2 linked regions of the Homo sapiens genome follow. The protein of the gene in region 1 binds, or shares a complex with, the protein of each later gene. Each region holds a gene or a part of one and is shown on either strand. Other genes may lie near its edges.

Evidence for each region. Proteins that work in one complex are often made in the same cells at the same time.
Region 2: CACNB1 (region 1) and CACNA1S share a complex: the UniProt entries of both Homo sapiens proteins name them as parts of the calcium channel complex.

The regions. Positions count from the first base shown.
Region 1 is NC_000017.11:39,180,670-39,187,705, forward strand, and holds part of CACNB1 (voltage-dependent L-type calcium channel subunit beta-1), read right to left. Parts: intron 6,933-7,036; coding exon 6,810-6,932; intron 6,261-6,809; coding exon 6,124-6,260; intron 5,904-6,123; coding exon 5,827-5,903; intron 5,436-5,826; coding exon of another isoform or gene 5,281-5,435; intron 4,482-5,280; coding exon 4,462-4,481; intron 4,196-4,461; coding exon 4,115-4,195; intron 3,715-4,114; coding exon 3,656-3,714; exon of another isoform or gene 3,564-3,655; intron 3,472-3,563; coding exon 3,362-3,471; intron 3,196-3,361; coding exon 3,044-3,195; intron 2,342-3,043; coding exon of another isoform or gene 2,324-2,341; exon of another isoform or gene 1,972-2,323; intron 1-1,971. UniProt on the Homo sapiens protein: Regulatory subunit of L-type calcium channels. Regulates the activity of L-type calcium channels that contain CACNA1A as pore-forming subunit.
Region 2 is NC_000001.11:201,039,427-201,046,462, forward strand, and holds the end of CACNA1S (voltage-dependent L-type calcium channel subunit alpha-1S), read right to left. Parts: intron 5,031-7,036; coding exon 4,902-5,030; intron 4,106-4,901; coding exon 3,855-4,105; intron 2,164-3,854; coding exon 2,078-2,163; intron 1,288-2,077; coding exon 1,196-1,287; intron 949-1,195; coding exon 805-948; intron 657-804; coding exon 405-656; 3' UTR 86-404; downstream 1-85. UniProt on the Homo sapiens protein: Pore-forming, alpha-1S subunit of the voltage-gated calcium channel that gives rise to L-type calcium currents in skeletal muscle.

The sequences.
Region 1 (7,036 bases):
AGAGAGAAAGAAAGATAAAAGTAAATGTTTCAAAATTTGTGAATCTGAAAAAAATTAGACTGTACACTTAATTTATTTTTTATTTTTTAATAGAGACAGGGTCTTGCCATGTTGCCCAGTCTGGTCTCCAACTCCTGAGCTCAAGTGATCCACCTGCCTCAGCCTCCCAAAGTGCTGGGATTACAGGTGTGAGCCACCAAGCCTGGCTTATAGACTTTAAATGGCTGAACTTAATGGTATGGGAATTCTACCTCAATAAAATGTTAAAAAGTTAGTGAATCCTGGTGAAGAATATTCAAAAAATAAGATTTTTTTGATACTATTCTTGCCACACTTCTGTAAATCTGAAATTATTTGAAAATGAAAATCTTCTTACAAAATGGAACAGATATAGTTCTGGGATACCAAGCGTTTATTTTTATTTATTTATTTATTTATTTTTGAGACAGAGTCTTGCTCTGTCACCCAGGCTGGAGTGCAGTGATGCAATCTCGGCTCACTGCAACCTCCGCCTCCTGGGTTCAAGCAATTCTTGTGCCTCAGCCTCCTGAGTAGCTGGAATTACAGGTGCCCACCACCATGCGCAGCTAATTTTTTGAATTTTAGTAGAGGCAGGGTTTCATCATGTTGCCCAGGCTGGTCTTGAACTCTTTAGCTCAGGCAATCCGCCGGCCTCGGGCTCCCAAGGTGCTGAGATTACAGGTGTGAGCCACCGTGCCTGGCCCAATACCAAGCATTTTTCATGGTTAACCCATTTATTTAATCTTCACAAACCCAGTATGCCTATGCTGCAGATGAGGAAACCAAGGCATAGAGATGTTTGGCCGCTTGCCAAAGGAACACAGAGCCAGTAAGTGACAGCCCTGGAGTAGAAGGTCCAGGCTGCCTGGTTCCAGAGTCCCTCCTCTTAACCTCAGTGGGGGAAATGGAAGCATTGGTTACTTTCTAGTTCAGTGTTTTTGCATCCATTATCTCATTTGGTCCTTTCAACTCCCCTCAGGAAGTACTTAAATCCCATCATCCCCTTTATCTCATTAGAAACAGAGGACTCAGAAAGGTTAAGTAGGCTGGGCGCGGTGGCTCACGCCTGTAATCCCAGCACTTAGGGAGGCTGAGGCAGGAGAAATCACTTGAGGTCAGGAGTTTGAGACCAGCCTGGCCAACATGGTGAAAACCTGTTTCTACTAAAAATACAAAAATTAGCCAGGTGTGGCCGGGCACAGTGGCTCACACCTGTAATCCTAGAACTTTGGGAGGCCGAGGCCGGTGGATCACGAGGTCAGGAGTTCAAGACCAACCTGACCAACATGGTAAAATCCCGTCTCTACTAAAAATATAAAAATTAGCCAGGTGTGGTGGCATGCACCTGTAGTCCCAGCTACTCAGGAGGATGAGGCAGAGGAATCACTGGAACCCAGGAGGCGGAGGTTGCAGTGAGCAAGATCGCACCACTACACTCCAGCCTGGGTGACAGAGTGAGACTCCTTCTCAAAAAGAAAAAAAAAAAAAGCCAGGTGTGGTGTGTGCCCGTAATCCTAACCCCAGCTACTCGGGAGACTGAGGCACAAGAACCACTTGAACCTGGGAGGCGGAGGCTGTAGTGAGTGAGATCGCACCACTGCACTCCAGCCTGGGTGACAGGGCAAGGCTGTCTCAAAAAAAAAAAAGGTTAAGTAACTGGTCCAGGGAGCCCAGCTCATGGGATGATAATGGTTACCACTATTGGCTGCCCTCATAAATCAGAGAGTAGGCTGGGTGCGGTAGCTCACTCCTGTAATCCCAGCACTTTGGGAGGCCGAGGTGGGCAGATCACGAGGTCAGGAGATCGAGACCATCCTGGCCAACATGGTGAAACCCTGTCTCTACTAAAAAATACAAAAAATTAGCCGGGCCGTGGTGGTACACTCCTGTAGTCCCAGCCACTCAGGAGGCTGAGGCAGGAGAATCGCTTGAACCTGGGAGGTGGAGGTTGCAGTGAGCTAAGATCGCGCCACTGCACTCCAGCCTGGTGACAGAGCAAGACTCTGTCTAAAATAAATAAATAAATAAATAAATAAATAAATAAATAAATAAATAAATCAGAGAGTATACTGGGCTCCTTACAGCAATCCTCTCAACAATAACACGAGAGGGATTACAACCCCACTTTATAGGTGAAGAAATAGAGAATCAGAGGCTAAATAATTCCCCCAAGATTCCAAGTTCAATAAAAAACAACCAACAATAAGAATAAATCAATACGTAAACCAATCAGAGCTTGAATTTCAAGCCCATGCTGTCTTCTAACTTCAAATCCTCCACCTCAACTCTTCCTCCGTGTTTCTCAGATCCCCACTGGCATCTAGAAGGGAAAGTTAATGGTGCTGCAATACAAGGAAAAAGTAAGGCGGCCTTCCTACCGATTTCCCCTCTATCAAAGTCCAAATGAGGACACTGCAGCAAAAAGGGCTGATATCAAGAGAGGAAAGCAGCCTGGGCAACACAGCTAATCCCATCTCTAAAAAATAAAAATATTAGCCAGGCATGGTGGTGGACACCTGTAGTCCCAGCTACGTGGGAGGCCGAGGTGGGTGGATTGCTTTAGCCCAGGAGGTAGAGGCTGCAGTGAACTATGATTGCATCACTGCATTCCAGCCTGGGTGACAGAGCGAGATCCTGACTTAAAAAAAAGAAGAAGAAGAAGAAGAAGAAGAAGAAAGGAAAGACCTCCCAACTGCCAAGTAGCTGGGTGGCACTGGAACAAAAAGCACAGAATTCTTTCAGTCCAAGGGTGGGAAGTCAATCAGAGTGGAGACAGGGGACTGGTCTGCATGACCCTAATAATAGTAAATAATAGCTAACATGTTGTATCAGACCATTTGCTAAGTGCTATACATTCATATGAGGTTGAAACACTTGACAATACGATGGAGCTTTACAGAGAAGGAAACTAAGACTCAGGCAGATTAATTCACGTAATTAGTAAGCAGTGGAGCTGGGATTTAAACCCAAGCAGCCCTTTCAAACCACGCTGTCCTGGCCAGGGTCAGGCTCCTGCACCCACCTTGGGAGAGGTGATCTTGATGTAAACAATGATGGGGGCCAGCGAGGTCTTGGACAGCTGGGCTGGGTGATTGATGGTGTCAGCATCCAGAGCGACCAACTGAAGGGTCCGGGCCAGCTCGAAGATTCGCTCGATTTCACTCTGCACCTCAGCTGGGGGCATGGAGTCATGTGGATGGGGGAATGTCAGGTGGCCTCCCAGGAACAGCAGGTGGAGGGAACACTTCTGGAGATGGCCCTGCCCACTACCTCCCACACCTCCCACCCCTCCCACATCCGGCCCAGAAAGGGGGAGTGAAGACAGCAGGAGTAGGCTCACCCAGGCTGGAGCGTGTGTTGGAGCGCTCAATGATGATGTGTTTGCTGGGGTTGTTGAGAACTGAGCGCTTAGCCAGGGAAATATCTGCCGTCACACGAGTGATGGAGATCCTGGGGAATGGGGCAAGAGGGGAGTCAGGGGTCAGGGTGGGCTGGAATGCCCTGCCCACTCCCCAGTTCCAGGCCCGCCTTCTGTTCCTCAGTCCGAGTCCCAGGATTGTGATTCGAGGCATCCTGCCCATCCCCAGCAGCAGAGAGCAACGGCAGGTGCGAGGAGCAGCTCCCAGGATCTTACCTGCCATCAAACCGATGCTTCAAGAAGTCAAATAAAGCTTTCTGCATCATGTCTGTAACCTGGGGGTGGGGGTTTGTGGGGAGGGAGGGAGGAGAAGGCAGGCATTTAAAGCCGCTCAGACTCTGAGTCGCTGGGTATTTGTACCCTCACGTTCCACTTTCTTCTGGACAGGCCTTTACGGCGGGCGGGGGTCTGAGTCTGAGGGGCCTCCACTGGGGTCTCTGGTTCCAAGGTCCCTGTAAGTGGCATCTCTGGGAGGGCTCTTCTGAGGGTTTCTTTGGGGGACGGGGCTCCTCTGAGTGGGTCTTTCTGTGGATTGGGCCCCCTGGGGGTTGTCTCTGAAAGTCTGTAGCCCTCCTGGGAGGATGCCTTGGGATCGGGCCCTTCTAGGGGATCTCTCTGGGGTCTGAAGATCTTTCTAAGGCCCCTCTGCATCCACTCCCCTCTAGGAAGTCCTACCTCGTAGCCCTTGAGCGACGGTCCCACCAGGATGATGGGCCTCATGGAAGGCACCACGTCATAGGGGGGCACATGCTCTGTCTGGGGGGGGAAGCAGGGAGGGGAAACCCCAGAGTGGAGATGACATTAGATCCTCTCCCCCAGACTCCAGGCTCCCCCATGCAGCCTTCCCCCACCCTGGTCCCAGAGCCCAGATGTAGGGATCAGGGTGGGGGTGGGGAGGGATGGCCAGGGAGAACCAGGAAGGGTGGGGGAAATGGGGGACAGATGTGGGAATGGGTGTTAGAAGGTCCCCCTAGCTCATCCCAGGGAGTGGGGAGGAGGACACAGAAAGCTGTGATACTCACCGACTTCTGCTTCTGTTTGGCTGGGTCCAGAGATTGCCAAGAGAGGGAAGGGGGAGGAGAGAGGGAAGGGGACCCAGGCAGGGGCAGAGGGCAAGGCAGGAGCCAGGACAAGAGAGGGAGGGAGAGCCGGGCAGACGAGGAGAGATAACAGGGCATGCGTGTTAGTGACAGACAGAGCCAGAGACGGGGAACGGGACCCCACGCCAAGGGGGAGCCAGAGGTGGCCCTGGATCAGGGCTGGGAGCAGGACTGACAGTCAGTCCAGTGGATGTGGGAATATTCAGACATATCCTACCCTCTTCTGGGTCTTGGAAAAGAGCTGGAGAGGGTGACAGCCCCTATCTTGTTGCCCATCTCCTGCCCCCAGTGCATGCCAACATGCCCATTTTAGGGGTTCCCTTAACTGTCTTGCTTTGCAGCCAGCAGCCCCCCCCCACTATGTGCCCACCCAGAGAGTCAAAAAAGGGCAAAGAAGGAATGCCATCCCATGTCCTGCTTCACATGCCAAGGTAGACACCAACACCAGAGCAGGCCCCTGGGAGTGAGGGGAGAGGTCAGGGTTCATGACCACCAAACCCTGCTGCCCCAGGTGTGGGGGCAACCTTCCAAGGGCAAGATCTCCTTCCTGGAGATCGGGCCAGGGTGGAGTTGTGTGTGGAGGGGGATGTGCCCATGCTACCCTTCCCTCCACCTCAGCAGGAAGCCCTGATGCCCACAGAACAGGTTGGTACCACATCTGAATCCATTACAGCCCCCTTCCCTCCACCAAAGTGCTGGCCCTGACTCCCCCACCTCTTGCAAGAACACAGCGAGAATTACCTTCTTAAAGAAGGGGATGCGTTTGCCATGGGGTGGCGGGGTGGTGACACTGCTAACACTAGTCTTGGCAGAGCCACTCTGCTCACCAAGCTCAGCCTCTTCCTCCTCTAACTCTAGGGGGTCTAGTTCAAAGGCTAAGTTAGTCATTTCATTACCTGGACCGGAGAGTCAGGAGAGAGGGAGGAGGGAGGCGAGGTGGGGAGAAGGAGTGAGATGAACGTGGAGACACAAGTACAGAACGCAGGGATGGGGATGGGGAAAAAAGAAAGAAGAAGAGGTGAATGGAACAGGGCTGGGAGAAATGAATGGGGGCAGGGCAGGGGAATCAGGCAGAGAGATGGAGCTACCAAAGAAAAGGGAGAGGAGAGACATGACAGGCCCAGCTTGAGGGGTAGCCTACTCTTCATGGAGGGGGAACCACTGCATGTGCTTGGGGGACTCAGGATTGGGGTGTTTCCTACTGCAGGGAAAGGAGGATTCAGGGAGTGGGGAGACCACCCCACCCAGGAGCTTCTTCCCAAACCCCTGCATGGCGATGGCTCTTACCACTGGCAGGGGGTGTGGGGCGGCGGGTGCCAGTCACCACATCTCCCAGACTGGAACTGGAGTTATCGCCTGATTTGCTGTGTGGGCAGAGGCAAACCGAGCTTGTGAGCAAAGAGGTGGGCGTGGGGGGCTCTCATCCTCTCACATGCGGCACCCCCGGAGGTGCTCCAGCCCCACTGGTGATGCCACAGGCAGCTCTGTGCCCTCAGGGCCAGGGACAACCATTGAGGCCTAGTCCAGGCTGTATGGCCTCTCCTGGGGTTGGCAGCATCCCCTTCCCCTGCCCCACCCAGACACCTGGAGCCGAGGCGGTTCTGGCGCAGCTTCTGTTCCTGCAGCAGGCGAAGGCTGTCCAGTTTGACGGGGCTGGGAATGAAGCCAACCTCACAGCCCTCCTTCACCAGCCGCCCGATCCACCAGTCATTATTGTATTTCTGCAAAGAATATGGCAGGTGGGTGGAAAGAGCAAGAGGGAAACTGCAGGGGCAAGCTAGCAGTCACTCTCTAGGGGAAACGCCCAGACTCACCTCCCAGCCCAGGGGTGGCACCCTCAAAAATCCCCAGCCCTGGCTCCAGCCTCTGAGTGGAGCTGCCAATTCTCAGGACAACTCCAGGACCAGCATGCTTTCTGGCCATGGACCACCCTGCCACCGGCCCAATGCAATTCTGAGAGTCCTTCTCCCCATGTGCCCACCCTACTCTACAAAGGCCGCTGGAGTAAATGCGGATACCTACATGTCCCTGGCACACCGCCATGCCAGTTCAGGCCCCCTAACAAACCCTCCCAACAACCTTCTGACCTAAGCATTACCACCTCATTTTTCCAGTAGAAAATTAAGAGGCTCAGAGAGGTGGAGAGATTTGTCTAAGGTCACACAGCAGATTCAGCCTGGCTCTGCTTGGCTCAGAAGCCTTTTGTCCACTAGCACTCTGGCTGCCTGTCTCCTGGCACCCACTTCCCTGCCCTCCCTCCAGATACCCACCTCCTTGATGTGCAGGAAGTCTTTGGGCTCGAAGGTGATGGCCACTCCCTGCACAGGCACCTCATCCCCTGGAGACGGATTGTAGCCAACATTTGTCCGCACAGCAAATGCCACTGGCTTGGTCTAGAGGAGGCACACAGGGGAGGATGGCAACTAGAGGGCAAACCACAATGTAATGTACAACTTCCTGACAGTAGTGGTGGTTACTTGGATGTTTACTTTATAAT
Region 2 (7,036 bases), on another chromosome or scaffold:
CATGGGCAGGGTTCCTGGGGAAGGGACTGGGGAGGGGGAAACACAGGTGTAGAAGAGTCCAAAAAACTGGACAAGCAGAGGCCAGTTGCCAGTGTCACAGGCCTGGAGATTTTAATGTCCTGCAGGTGGGAGTGGCCCTAGGCCAGACAGGCACTGACCAGGCCTTTTTGAATGACATTAGAAGCTCCATCCAATCATGCCTCTTGCTGGTGAGGGGCAGGGCCTGTCCAGCTACTTCCTCCGCACTTTTTGAGGTGGTTCCTGACCACCCTGCCTCAGGCCATGCATCTAGCTGCTGAGAGGGAGGGAGGCTGCTGCGGTGGGCTAGCCCTTCTCCACCCCAGCAACTTCCCCACCCCCATTGGTCATGCCAGCTCTAAGCCCATGCTGATGCTGTGTGGGCATCACAGCCTTGGAGGAATAAGGGTCTCCTGGGAGCCCTGGTGTTGGTCGAGGCTGCCCAGGGAGGACCCGAGGTTCAGGCATCCCAGGGAGCTGGCCATGCCCTCTGGGGCCTCTCGTCCTTTCAGTAGCTCTGTTGCCATGATCTCCACTTCCTCTGGTTCCATTTGGCAGGCATCTGCCAGGGCCTGGCCTGTTGCCATGATGAAGTTTGCATCAGCTGCCAAGGTGCCCAGGCCCCCTCGAACCAGAGCCTGCAGGGAGGAGAGTAGGCTGAGTGGGGTCTTCCTGGGGAGCCACATTTGGGGACCTGCCTCTGTTGGCCCTACCCTCTCTCCACGCCAGGCCATCACAGGGCCACCACTCAATGCAGCCACTGCTGTGACCCAGCCCCTGGCTCACCTTTTGGATCAGCAGGGCTGTAGCTGGTGCTGAGCACCTGGAAGTATTCTCCCTGGTGCTCCTGCTGTGGGGTGTCTCCTCATGAAGAGACCCTGGTGTGGAGCTCTTTCTGTCCTCAGGCATGGAGGACTCCACCCTGGGGCACTGTTCCAAAGGTACAAAAGCAAAGACCCCGACAGGGGTGCTGGAGCCCACCAATGAGCAAAATTCCAGATCATCTGAGGGCAACTCAACCAAGATCCACAGAAAGGGGAGGATGGAGGGATCCCGTCCCTTCTGTACTGTTGGACACATTGCTGCCACAGCCTTCCCCTGCCATGATCCCACTCCAAGTATCAGGCCAGGCAGGGTCTCTGTATGGAGTTTGCTCCCAGGCCTCTGCCACTGTTACCTGGCAGGGGGCAGGAGGTGCCTGGCCTCTGGGCATTGCCCTCTGGGTCAGCAGTCCCTTCAGCATCTCCACACAGGGTTTGCTGTGGGGTCCTGTATGCAAGAAGGGGCAAGGATAAGAGGGGCTGCTGACTCCTGCCAGGAGCCCTGAGTCAACAGAGGCTCGCTTGGCTGGCTAGCCACACTCTGTGAGAGCTCTGAGATTCTCAGGGCTGCAGAAGGTGTCTTAGAGGGTGGACACATGATGAGGCCCAATCAACTCCAGGCCAGGCAGGGCTGCCCCAACTTTACTGGCCCTGGTCGCTGTTCTTGAAGGTTTGGGAGAGGGGATAAGGGCCAGAGTCTCTGGCCAAGCTGGTCCTCTGTGGTCCCTGGGTGTGTGCACATTAAAGTGAAAGTGTGTTGGGGAACACAGCAGTATCCTTATTGCCACTAGCCCCCAGCATCCTTGGGGCTCCTACTGTCACACAGCAGTCTAGGACATACTAGACTACAAGATCATTTGCAGAAGGGCCCCAGAGTCAAGACGTCAGTGTGTCCAGGGGCTGCCCTTCCAGGGACCTGGGGCGGTGTGGGGACTCCTGTGCTGGGGATGGTGTAGGGGGCTGTGTGAGTTTCCTGGGAGGCCTGCAGAGGGCCCTTTAGCATGAATGGGCTTTCCCCCTTCCACCTCACTCAGCCACCTAGATGGTGCCCTGCTTCCCCCCTGGACAAGTAGCTGGTCCTGATGGTTTTCCCATTCCAGGGCCCAGATGACTGCCATTGTAACAGGCTCCCAAGCCAGCCCTCCCAGCCAAGTTCCCAGACTCTAAGAAAAGAGTGGGGCTTCCCGGACTCCTCTGGGAGAAGACTCAAGCTTCTTAGATGCACAGAAGGGACTGACCCAGGACCCTGCAGGGTTGGCCAAGGGCTCGTCCTCTGGTAGCAGGCGTCTCTGTCTCTTCTGGGAACTCCCTTTCATAGTGGACACTGAAATGGAAGCAAGGCTGGGTGAACCAGAGAAGGCTGCTAGCTCTCTCGGCATCCCTGCCTCTCTGGCCCCAAACATCCTTTTCCCTCAGAGCCTGTACAAGGCCAACCTAGTGTAGCAGCCGTGACTCTAGGGCTGACGTTTCCACCACTGTGCCCCAGCCAGCCCTGACTCTCTAGGAGGAAGGAGTCCAGAGCATTCCTGACTCCACTCCTTTGCTCAGTTGCTCCCTCTACCCTTTCTACATTCTGTTCATCTTCCAAGGCCCAGCTGCAGCCTCCCAGCCTTTGGAACCCTGCTTCTCCATCTTGGCCACACATAGGATCACCTGAGGAGCTCAAAGGTGAGTGGTGGCTGAGTCCCACACCCAGCATCTGTGGTGAGGCCCAGGCATTGGGATTTGCAGAAGCTCCCTGGATTATCTAATGCACAGCCAAGGCTGAGAACCATTCTAGGTCTTTCCAGCCCATGGTGATCCATACCCCCTCTGCACTCTCAGGACACTAAATATCTGTTATTATTTGGTGTTTTTTGTTTATTTGTTTTGTTTTGTTTTGTTTTTTTGAGACGGAGTCTTGTTCTCTCACCCAGGCTGGAGTGCAGTGGCACAATCAGCTCACTGCAACCTCCACTTCTTGAGTTCAAGAGATTCTTCTGCCTCAGCCTCCCGAGTAGCTGAGATTTCAGGCATGCGCCACCACACCTGACTAATTTTTTGTGTGTTTTTAGTAGAGACACGGTTTCTCCATGTTGGCCAGGCAGGTCTCGAACTCCTGACCTCAAGTGATCCACCTGCCTAGGCCTCCCAAAGTGCTGGGATTACAGGCATGAGCCACCACTCCTGGCCTCTGTGATTATTTGGTCCCAATCATATCACATAACATATCACCCAACAAGACGACAACCCCCTTCAGGGCAGGGCCCAGGGCTGATGCTTCTGTATTTCCACGTTACCTTGCACCATGGTGACCCAAAAAGGTACATGCACCCTTCAAGGCTTGTGGGCTGAATTTAAGGGGTCTCTGTGACTGGAAGGGGTGCAGGCAGCCCTGGCCATGAAAAGGGGCTGGCTGCTGCCTTGTTCTGCTTATTCCTGAGGCCTGGGGCTAAGCCTTTCCAGGCCGAAGAGGCCTCCAATCAGCTGACCTCCTGTCTAGAACAGAAGCTTTGCCTGAGCCTAGCCCCTAAGTTATGATTGCTGAGAAGTTCTCCCCCTCATCCTGCTGTTTTTTATGACACTTACGTAATCACAGATTATATTTAGTCTACAGCCCAAGGTTGGTGAGATGGGAACCACCCAGCACAGCGGGATCTCCTTGGAACCTAAATCCAGTGATGGAATCTTATTGTCCACAGTCTTTTGTGGTATGTGCTACCACCGAAGATCCTCTCCTAACCTATCATGTGTTCAATACGTCTCAGCTCCTAGACTTGCTGAAGCCGACGGAATAAAAGAACCTCTCAACACTGGGGCCAATACTGACATGATGTGAGGCTTCCCCCTGCTGGCCAAAGAAGCCTCTGCCATCGAGGTCGGCCTCTTACATTAAGGTTCAGGATGGATTGGGGCACAAAGGCAAGCAAAAGACACCCTACAAATTTGGGGTACCCTCTTCCAATCCAACCTGGAACCTGCTGACATTGTCCTCCCAGTACCTCTACACCCAGGGATGGCAGTGGCCGCCACTACCTGGAAAACACATGGCTGTTGCTATGGTTGCTGTTGCCATAGGCGACATTGGCGTTGGCATTGTTGGTATTGGCACGAGCCAGGGGGTTGGTGCGTGGATCTTGTGGGAAGTCCTCCAAGAAGACAGGTGACTCCATCTCTTCCATCTCTATCTCAGCAAACTGGAGGGGTCTCTGATTGGCCATGACGGGGGGCAGGGAGTTGGTCCTTTCCAGGAAGTTGTCCACCTGGCCAAACAGGCCTCCAGTCCTCTAGGGGCAAGGAGAAGAGCAGTGACTGGGGGTGAGGGCAGGGAGGGCATGGGGGGCTGTCACTCTGGGACAGTGGTATTGGGAACAAGCAATAGTATTGGGAGACAAATCTTATAAGGCCAAAGGAGGATGGACTGAGTGGTGAGATCAAAAGAAGAAAATTCCCACCCTTAGAAAGTTCTTTGTTTGATGGGGTAGACAGCACACACCTAAGGAGGTATATAGGGGACACAGGCACACAGAAGAGAAGTGTGGTGTAGGGGAGAGAGGGCTGAATCGGGAGTCTGCAGCACTGGGTTCTAGTCCCCGCTCTGAAACTGATTTACTAGGTGATATTGGACATCTCACATGATCTCTGTGGGCCACTATTTCCTCATGAATAACCCAAAAAGACCTAACTAGGTGTCATTAAAGACCTTCCAGCAATAAAGTGTTATAAGAAACATGAGACAGAGCTAAGGATGGAGGACTGGCCTCAGTGGAGGCAGGCAGGGCATTTGATCCTGGAGGGCCTCTGGGAGATGGGTCGTTGCCTAGGGTTTGTGGGGAGGAAAGGGAAGGGGTGAGATTTGGTAGGGAAATGTGGGAAAGAGTGTGTTGCATTTGACACCTCTAGTAGATCAGGTCATTGATTCTGAGTCCCAGGAGAGGTGGGTGGTGAAGTGGAGAGACGGAGTGGGGTATCTTCAGCTCCCATGTCCCCCTCTCGTGTGGCTGGGCTCCCAGCCCTCCTCTCTGTGAGACACTGCCACTCATGGTGTCTAGACCACTAGGGGTGCTCCTGGCTCTCCCTCACCCGGAATATTCCCTCCTCCATCGCAGCCTCCACCATGGCTCTCTCCAGCTCCTCCTCAGCAGCCAGGTCTCCTGAGACCGTGCGACAGATCTCGGGGGCTGCCTCTTCCTCAATGGTCCGCAGCCCTGCCTGGGGATGACGAAGGGACTCAGTTATCTCTCCAGCCCAGGAGAGGAGACCAGAACCACTTTTTCTTTTTTTGAGACAGAGTCTCACTCTGTTGCCCAGGCTGGAGTGCAGTGGCACAATCTGAGCTCACTGTAACCTCTGCTTCCCGGGTTCAAGTGATTCTCCTGCCTCAGCCTCCTGAGTAGCTGGGATTATAGGCATGTGCCACCACTCCCTGCTAATGCTTGTATTTTTAGTAGAGATGGGGTTTCACCATGTTGGCTAGGCTGGTCTCAAACTCCTGACCTTGTGATCCACCCACTTGGCCTCCCAAAGTGCTGGGATTACAGGCATGAGCCACCGTGCCTGGCTAGAACCGCTTCGTATGGCTTACTTGTTTCTTATCACTGTACCCAGGGCTCTCCCAAAGCCCCAGCCTAGGCCCCACTCTCCCTCTTGGGTTATTGAATATCTCAGGTACCTGAGAGGCCACCAGGTCCTGCTCTGGCCTCTGGGATAGCCCACACCTTAATTGTTCCAATTGAGTCATCTCTTGACCCCATGGGTGGAAATTTCATGCCCTTCCCAGGCTTCCAGGTTGAGAAGTGTTCTTACTCAGTACAGTCTTCTAGATTGGTGATCTTTATTGATTGGATATGTCATATATATATAGTTGAGCAAAGTTAATATCACCAGTAATGGGACAAGTCAAGACTGGTGTCACCTAATAGCTTGTAATGAGAACACAGAATCATTTCTGTGGCATTCTTATCCAAGATGCATATCCTAGTAATCAGACAAACCCCAACTGAGGGACATACTGACCTGCAGTCTTCAAGTGTCAAGATCGTGTCAAGGAAAGACTGATGAACTCTTCCAGATGGAAGAGATGAAAGAGATAAGGCAACTCAATGCACTGTCTGATTCTGGATTGGATCCTTTTGCTATAAAGGACATTTACTGGGACAGCAAATGAAATTTGAATGGGGTCTGAGGATTAGAATGTAGTAATGTATTAGCCTGGCATGGTGACTCACGTCTGTAATCCCAGCACTTTGAGAAGCTGAGGCAGGCAGATCACTTGAGGTCAGGAGTTTGAGACCAGTCTGGCCAGCATAGCGAAACCCCATCTCTACTAAAAATACAAAAAGTAGCCTGGCATGGTGGTGTGTGCCTGTGATCCCAGCTACTCAGGAAGCTGAGGCATGAGAATGGCTTGAACCCGGGAGGCAGAGGTCGCAGTGAGCCAAGATCATGCCTCTGCACTCCAGCCTGGGCGACAGCGAGACTCTTGTCTCCAAAAAAAAAAAAAAAAAAAAAAAAGCATCAGTGTTAATTTCCTGATTTTGTGGTTATGTTGTGGTTACATAGAAGAATTATGCAGGATAACGCCCTTGTAATACACATTTTGCCTTGAATACACACAATGCCTTGAAATATGCATTAAAGTGTTTTTGGATGATGGAACATCATTTTGGAGTTACTCTCAAATGGTTCAGAAAAAAAGGTTTTATATTATACTTGCAACTTTTTAAAAGTATGAGATTATTTCAAAATAAAAATAGCCATTGAAATAAATTTTTGAGCACAGCTCAAATGCATGTGTATTTGGGGGTTTTATAAATTATGTGCATTACAGTGAACCCAAAAATAGAAATAAAACCAGATAAGATAAAACAAAAAGTTCTAAAGTTTTCTTTTCACACCCAATGGGACATATTTATTTATTTATTTATTTATTATTTATTTATTTATCTATCTTTTGAGATGGAGTCTTACTCTGTCACCCTTGCTAGAGTGCAGTGGTGCAATCTCACCTCACTGCAACCTCTGCCTCCCAGGTTCCAGTGATGCTCCCGCCTCAACCTCCCAAATAGCTGGGATTACAAGCGTATGCCACCATGCCCAGCTAATTTTGTAATTTTAGTAGAGATGGGGTTCTACCATCTTGCCCAGGCTGGTCTCAAACTCCTGACCTCAAGTGATCCGCCCTTCTTGGCCTCCCAAAGCGCTGGGATTACAGGTGT